2 separate regions of the Homo sapiens genome follow, and region 1 is linked to region 2. The links come from fine-mapping of genetic effects on gene expression. Tissue or cell type: whole blood. Region 2 holds a variant in brackets; the other region holds the start of a gene. All regions are shown on one strand. Distances are from middle to middle.

What was found. PIP is the estimated chance that this variant, and not a neighbour inherited with it, causes the effect.
Region 1: IREB2 starts here. The variant in region 2 is fine-mapped to the expression of IREB2 in whole blood (TOPMed, PIP above 0.99).

Annotation. Positions count from the first base shown.
Region 1 is chr15:78,436,563-78,440,562 of GRCh38, reverse strand. IREB2 (iron responsive element binding protein 2) reads right to left here and starts at 2,347. Exons shown (of 22, transcript NM_004136.4): 1 at 2,207-2,347; 2 at 682-768. The coding sequence starts at 2,225. RefSeq lists a silencer at 1,893-2,132 and enhancers at 2,603-2,662, 2,733-2,812.
Region 2 is chr15:78,487,690-78,491,951 of GRCh38, reverse strand. IREB2 (iron responsive element binding protein 2) reads right to left here. Exons shown (of 22, transcript NM_004136.4): 14 at 4,135-4,219; 15 at 3,616-3,772; 16 at 3,181-3,305; 17 at 1,426-1,530; 18 at 1,191-1,333. Among named protein-coding and RNA genes, the nearest start is that of HYKK, 18 kb to the left of the region's middle. The variant A/C (reference allele first, on the strand shown) is at 1,968.

The DNA of each region.
Region 1 (4,000 bases), 51 kb after region 2:
AGACCCCAACTCTACAAAAAATATAAAAATATGTTTTTATATAAATGTGTTGGCATACACCTGTAGGCCTTGTTACTTGGGAGGCAGAGGCAGGACTGCTTTAGCCCAGGAGTTCAAGGCTGTATGAGCTATGATCACAACACTGTGCTCTAGCCTGGGCAACAGAGCAAGACTCTGTCTCAAAAAAAAAAAGAAAAGAAAAGAGAAAATAAAATATACATTTAATTGGTGTAGAATTATCATCAGTCAGTCAGGTTCTTCTAAAAATCACATTAGGCCAGGCGCAGTAGCTTACATGTGTAATCCCAAAACTTGGGGAGGCAGAGGTGGGAGGATTATTTGGGCCCAGGGGTTCAAAACTAGCCTGGGTAACATAGCAAGACCCCTGTCTTCACAAAAACAAGAAAAAAAAAAGTTTGAAAACTGCATTATTGGTTTCTTTGAGGGGAAAAACTAGTGCTTAATTAACTTAGATTTTTAAATGAGAAGTTAAGGTGTGGGCCTACATCTTCCCTGAACAGAAGTTGTCCCAGGAGGAGTTTTTAAAATGGTATAGGTATGTGTAGGTGTACCTGTTACAATACGGTGGAAATACATTTAAAATTTCTTCAGCTCAGCTTGACAAATGCATTTTCATTATTAGAGACTAAACAAACCCAAGAAAATGTAAAGCAACATTACCATACTTGGTGCCAAGTTTAGATACATCGAAGAACTTCTTATGTGAACTGTCATTTAATGTTTCAATAAGGTACTCAAAGGCGTATCCTGAAAAAAAAATTGTATTTTCATTAAATGCAGCAACAAAATATTTTATTCAGCTGAAAATACCTGGAAACTAGCTTTATCCAATAGAATTTTCTGCAATGGTAAAAATATTCTATGTTTGAGCTGTCCAGTAAAGTAGCCATTAGCAACGTGTGGCTATTGAGCACCTGAAATGTGGCTATCGTGCCTGAGGAACTGAATTTTTAATTTATTTAATTTTGATTAATTTAAAGTCACACAGGGCTAGTATCCACCACACTGGAAAGCATAGTTCTAAACCATAATTTGTCAAGTAAAAACTAGTAAGATAATTCACTCCTGAAATGTGATAAGAATACCTGGAAAGGGACAATAAGAATGATTTAAATAATCCACGGGGACGTTTTGGAAAGACATGTCTTGAAAACTGCAGAGACAGGAATTTGTGAATTCCACAATTAACATTAGAGGGACTGATTAAAAAAAAAAACTAAAAGACGGATTTTTACAGAGCATTCAATAAACCAAAACAAAAAAACTTCTCAGTTAAGTCCTTACCAGGGCTTAGTACTGAAAATAAAAGTAACAGAATCTCTAGGAAATTAGCATATTCTACCCGAAAGAGACAAGTCTTCTGGTTTTGCACGAACTGAAGCTGAACTACTAAGTCAAAGATCCAGAGGTCTCATTTAAACGTGCCTCAGCTCCCAACATTCTAGGGGGCAGTGGCGGGGAGGCAGCCCTGAGGTTGAAAAGAACCTTCAGATCTTTTGTGCAGACTCATAGCGGTGGGTGGCCAGGACCCTCAACATTGTTAAGGCTTTCATCCAAAAGGAGAAAACATAAGCACAGCCCATTTTCAGAATGAATAGTATTTTTTTCTCTTTTTTTTTTTTTGTAGAGGGAGGTGGACGGGGGAGGAGACAGCGGTGCAATAAATGGTCGGAGAACTGACTGACCAATGTTCAACCTTGACTGCCCCTCATTCGGCTTCCAGAGGCACAGAGAGACTGAGGGGCCTTAGGCTGGACCGTGGAATCAACATCTAGCTGCGTGAGACCCGAACACGGAGACGCAGGCCCCCGCCTTCATCGCTCGCCAATGGGGGGCGGGCAGGAGAAGACGGTGGGCCTCTCCCTGCCCCTGGTGTTGCTGACGGGGGCCAGGAAGCCGCTGGCAGCAGGCAGCGGCCACCGGAGAGAGAGGGGTGCGGGTCAAGGCCAGCGGTGGGGTGGCCCGCCCTGCGGGTGTCGCGCAGGAGGGTGGGGATCGGGAGCCCCAGCTTCCGCGGCCTAGGCTCAAAGGGCGGCCCAGCAGGCAGGCCCCGAGGGGAGCACAACCCGAGCCCCGAGGGCCTGGGCGCCTGCCGAGCGACTCCAGGCGAGAAAAGCAAGGAATTCGGCGCCTAGGCAGCGCGCGTTTCCAACTGCCAGACCCAGCTCGGAGGCCCGAAACTGACCTGCTTTTGGGGCGTCCATCGCCGGAGACCATATTATCCCTCCGGGGAGGGGGCCAGCGGGGGAAGAAGGGGGAGGCCGGGCAGGGAAGACGGGGAGGAAGACAGGCGGACTGGCAAGGGAGGAAAGAAGGAAGCAGGCTCGCGCAAATATCGCGAGAGCAGCAGAGCCAGCCCCGGGTCTGCGCTCGCGGGATTTGTCGCCTAACTCCCGCGAGATCGTCGGACAGGAAAACAAAGAAAGGGAAGGGGCGGAGCTAACCAGAAAGCGATTTCTCGCGCCGTCGCCGCTGTTCTCGCGAGCGGGGGCGGAGCGCTGGGGAGGCTCCAGTGGGGGCGTTGGCGTGGCTAGTTTGGCCTTCGCAGCGATCCGTTACTTAGTTGCGGCCTTAAGTTTTCTATTGGGGTCATGAATTCGAGCGGTGTTTGCGTTCCCGCAAGGTGTCTGTTGGAGTCAGGGTCGGAATCGGAACTGCTAGGAGAAAGAGCTCAAGGAGAACCGCTTTCCCCTAACTATAAAGCCTTGCATTAACTTGTCAGACGTGGGCGGCCCACACGCGTGTTTTCAAGTGGGGGCGGCCATACTGATCGGGCGCGTGGGAGGCGCTCAACTGTTGAATGAATGAATTTTTTCTTACCCTCCGGTAGCTTCCGTGATTGCCGACTTCTTCCCAGTGGCAGTTAACACATGCTTAAGCCTCTCCATCCTTCCGCCTCAGCTCCTCCGGTCCCTGTGTTCTCCACCTACCCAGCATTATCTCCTGTCGCAGCAACTTACCAGAAAGAGTCGCTCATACTCGGCTCTCCCCCACCCACTTCTTATCCTCTTCCAGTCTGGCTTCCACTCCCAGAAATGCCTTTAGCCAAGGCCAGCTATAACTCCACTTTCTAATCTCACATATCTCAATCTTGACTGGTTCTCTCCCATTGTTGAAAAATACTCTTCCATCAGCTTCTGTGACTTCAGACTCTACTTTTGTTTCTTCTCCTAAGGGTGCTTGATCTCAGGCTCCTCTGCAGACCTCTTCCTCCGCCCAGCTTTTAAATGTACTGGGCACTTGATGGGCACAGTAGCTCATGCCTGTAATTCCAGCACTTTAGGAGGCCAAAGTGGGAGGATGGCTTGAGCTGAAAAGTTCAAGACCAAACACAGCAACGTAGTGAGACCCTATCTCTACAAAAAAAATTTAAAAATTAGCTGAGTGTGGTGGCATGCACCTGTAGTCTCAGCTACTCAGGAGGCTGAGGTGGGAGGATCACTTGGGCCCAGGAGATTGAGGCTGTGGTGAGCCATGATTGCACCACTGCACTCCAGCCTGAGCAACACAGCAAGACCCTGTCTCAAAAAAAAATATATTGGACATTAAATGTGTCCCAGGGCTCTGGCCTTGTACCTCCTCCCTCTGTCCATTTTCCCTGGCCCATCTCACACTTCCTTTGACTTCAGTTATTAGTTAATATGTTGATGCTTCCCAGTCTGCCTGTGACCTGAGCCTATCTCCTAAACCCGGAGGTGTATATCCTAGTACCCATGGGATGCCTCCACATCCCAAGGCACCTCAAACTAAAAATCTCCAAAACTGAACTCGTCATTTCCCTCCTTAAACCTACTATTCCTTTTGTATTGCCTGTATTAGCGAATGGCGCCACCATCCACCTGGTTGCCCAAGCCAGAAATCAACACATTATACCTGACTCCTTCATCCACTCCCTTTAATCATTGATCCAAGCCCTGTCAACCCAAACTCCAATATATTTCCTTTATTCACCTTGCTATATTTTGTAACATCTCCTTTA
Region 2 (4,262 bases):
GACTGTTTTTCTTTTTTGGAGGTATGTCACAATTATGATGAAGATGGAAATCACAACCAAAAAAATATTTACAGGAAAGGAAACTTATTTCTCACCACTTTATAATAAAAGCTGTGCAATATTATCACATGTCAACACAAGCTACATTGACATTTTGGCTGGGCACGGTTGCTCATGCCTGTAATCCCAGCAATTTGGGGGGCCGAGGTGGGCGGATCACTTGGTCAGGAGTTTGATACCAGCCTGACCAACATGGTGAAACCCTGTCTCTACTAAAAATATAAAAACTTGCTGGGCATGGTGGCGCGTGCCTGTAATCCCAGCTAGTTGGGAGGCTGAGGTAGGAGAATTGCTTGAACCCGGGATGCAGAGGTGGCAGTGAGCTGAGATCACACCACTGCACTCCAGCCTGGGTGACAGAGTGAGTCTGTCTCAAAAATAAATACATAAATAAATACATACATAAATAAATAAATTTCAATGAAAAAGCTTGTCATTTTAATTACTCAAGCATCAAACAAGCATCCAATAAGCTAATCAGGTAGCAGTACTACAAATCCTGCTTTTAACAAAACTTTGTCTCTATTGTCAAAACAGTCCTTTGATAACAGGGCAACTCTACATGATTAATCATGTAGAAATGAAATCTTACCAGTTTTAAATTTATATCTCCAATATAAATGGCCTTTACGTTTATTGTTCCTATAAAATTTTAGGCTCATGAAGCAGAAATTCATTGTCTTTTGATTTGTACATATCATTCCCAGCCTCACACACGTACATGTTATAGCCCATAAAATACACATTTAAATTCCTTACTCCAATAATGGGAAGCTGGTTTTAACCAAATGAGCAGGCTTCATTTGGTAGGTAAAACCAAGCTGACTTTTCAATAAAGTAGCACTGAAAAAGAAAAATCTTATTTCCAATCAGCTGTTTATTTAGACTATAAGGGCTCAATTTAAAATTGCAATTTCATTTTCTAAAGTCACAAGCAAAGACAAGTACAGAAGGTACCCCCCGCCTCCCCACCCCGCCACTCTCCATTCTTGCTTAAGACAAACACATTGGCAGTCAGATTACCTACGATAGCATGTATTTACTGGAAAAAAGGAACAAGACCAATAGAAGCCTCTTAATCAGTAAGAAACAAGAAAAAACAAAAACACTCTAAAGCCATGTACACATACCCTCTGTTTGTCAAATACTTAGCGGCAGCACTATTCCTAGCGATACTTCCTGCAGGTGATATATGATCTGTTGTGACAGAGTCTCCCAAATATAATAAGACATGGGCATTTTCAATAGCCTGGAGTGCAATTGGCTCTTTGGTCTAGAAGGTAAAAGTTCAAGGCATTTAACTCTTTACAAGACTTCTTAGTTTATAACAATCTTTAAAAGATCAAATAGTAAAACAGTACTTACAAGTTTATCAAAAAATGAAGGGCATCTGATATAAGTAGACTTTAAGTCCCATGGAAACAAAACTGAATCCGGTGCTTCTAAGGAATTCCACCGTTTATTCCCCATCTGTGAATACAGTTTTCGTTGATGAACCAAAGCAAAGATAAAAGGACTCAGAAAAAGAGGCGCATGAAAATGATCAAGGGAATAAAATAGTACTTAGGTCACAACAACAACAACAAAAATAGGCCTTATCCATTTGGAAAGAAAATTAAGAGTGTATTCTTTTCTTTTTTTTAAAAAATTTTAAATTTTTATTTTTGCCCAGGCTGGTCTTAAACTCCTGAGCTCAAGCGATACGTGGGCCTTGGCCTCCCTGAGGGTTGGGATTATAGGCATTAGCCACCATGCCCAGCCAAAACAGTGTGTTCTAAAAAATCATGATGTTTTTGGACAGAATGATTAAAAATTTGCTCCTCAAATTCTAGCATACCAGATGTTCAGGAACACTCCAAGGGGCAAGTTTCAATATAAACAGAACATAAAGACTTCACAGAGTCCAA[A/C]AAAGTTAAAGAATTTAGAAAGATTTCTATATGTTGCTACAGAGAGATTAAGCATGTATGAGGTATGCTGTTAATGTCTAAGAATGTTATAATGGAGAAAAACCTCTGCTTTTTCAATGTATTTGTTCCACATCAACGCCTTCAAACTACAGCCAAAAATCTCACCATTTCTTAGGCCAGGCACAGTGGCTCACGCCTGTAAACCCAACACTTTGGGAGGCTGAGGTGGGCGGATCACTTGAGTCCAGGAGTTTGAGACCAGCCTGAGCATTTTTTATTTTTTATTTTACAAAAAATAAAAAATTAGCTGGGCCTGATGGTGAGCGCCTGTGGCCCCAGCTACTCAGGAGGCTGAGGAGCAGGATTGCTTGAGTCCAGGAGGTTAAGGCTGCAGTGAGCTGCTTCAGGCCACTGCACTCCAGCCTGGGTGACAGAGTGGGGTGCCATCTCCCAAAAAACACCAAAAAATAAATAATAAAAAATAATAAATATTGCATAATTTAGCTAATTATTCTCTTTACAGCTTATTTGCCTCTCCCCAGGAGAATTTTGTGTTTTGTTCAATGATGTATTCTGAACACCTAATCAATTCTTTCTTTTCCCCCCTCAACTGTTATTTTAACTTCTGGGGTACATATGCGGGATGTGCAGGTTTGTTACATAGGTAAATGTGTGCCATGGTGGTTTGCTGCACAGATCATCCAATCAACACTAATGAATTCTGATCCTCTAAGACATTTTCTTTCTTTTTTTTTTTTTTTTGAGACAGAGTTGCACTCTTGTTGCCCAGGCTGGAGTGCAGTGGCGCGATCTCGGATCACCGCAACCTCCGCCTCCCAGGTTCAAGTGATTCTCCTGCCTCAGCCTCCTGAGTAGCTGGGATTACAGGCATGCGCCACCAAGCCTGGCTAATTGTTTTGTATTTTTAGTAGAGATGCGGTTTCTCCATGTTGGTCAGGCTGGTCTTGAGCTCCGGACCTCACGTGATCAACCTGCTTCAGCCTCCCAAAGTGTCGGGATTACAGGCGTGAGCCACTGTGCCCAGCCGCCATTTTCTTTTTAACTACAGATTCCAGATACAAACTTACTATTACACATTAAAAACTGTATTCAAAATAATGTAATTTTAATTTTTATTCTATTCAGAAGATATATGAAATAAAAGAACACTGCAAATTGATTAAACTATTTAAGAAACACATAAGACTCTTACTTCTATTTTATCTTTTAATGCTTTAAACATGGATAGTATAACATGTTCTTCCTCTACTCGATGAACTTCTTCTCGACTAGGCCAAATATCATGCAGGTAAATGTTCTTGCCGGTGGGGTCAGTACCTGGTTAAAATTTTTGAACATGATACTCAGTAAAAAAATAACTCTGAAAATGTTCATACCTTTTCAAAGACATATCATGGAAATCAAGTAAATGATTCAACAGGGTGCTTCAGGCTTAAGCGGCTGGAAGAACTAATTACCTGTACATTTTATTTTCTTCACATAAACACAGAAATTAATAACTATACATTATCATACGTCTTCCTGAAATAATTCAAAGAATAGATGGTCTAAGAAACATTTCAAAAATATAACGACTTCCATTGGGAAAAGTATGTGTAGGTATACATATACATAAAGGAAAAGATACCTAAAGGTTCTGTCTGGAAATCTATATTCACTGTGCCTGCTATGGCATAAGCTACCACTAAGGGTGGAGAGGCAAGATAATTGGCACGAACACAATCACAAAGACGACCTTCAAAATTTTTGTTTCCAGATAAAATTCCACAGGTAACCAAATCACCCTGAAAAAAACACAAACACACAAACAAATAAATTCAATTCTAGAGATGGTACAAATCTGGATAATCATATATAAGCAATCTTAAAGTCTGAGGGCGAGATTAACCAAAAAACATATTACTAATTTTTAAATATAGAACTATGCATCTTGCAAATAAACTAAATCAATTCCTTGTATTATGAAGGAATTATTTCAAGGATCTACAAATGATTCATTGAATCATTTAAAGATTCACAGGTTACTATTGCCAAGAGGTGCAGAGTTTACAGAAATATAAACACATCAATATATATTTTCTATAATTTAGTAACAAAACATAGTTAAGAAAATCATTTAGATGTCTTGCCAATCCACACATTTTACCTGTTTTACTGCATTTAAAACTGCGTCTGATAAGGGTGCTGTATTTCCCACACAAATTGAACATCCATAGCCAACGATTTCAAATCTGCATTTCAAAAAAAAAGTGACTGAATAGCACATCACAACAT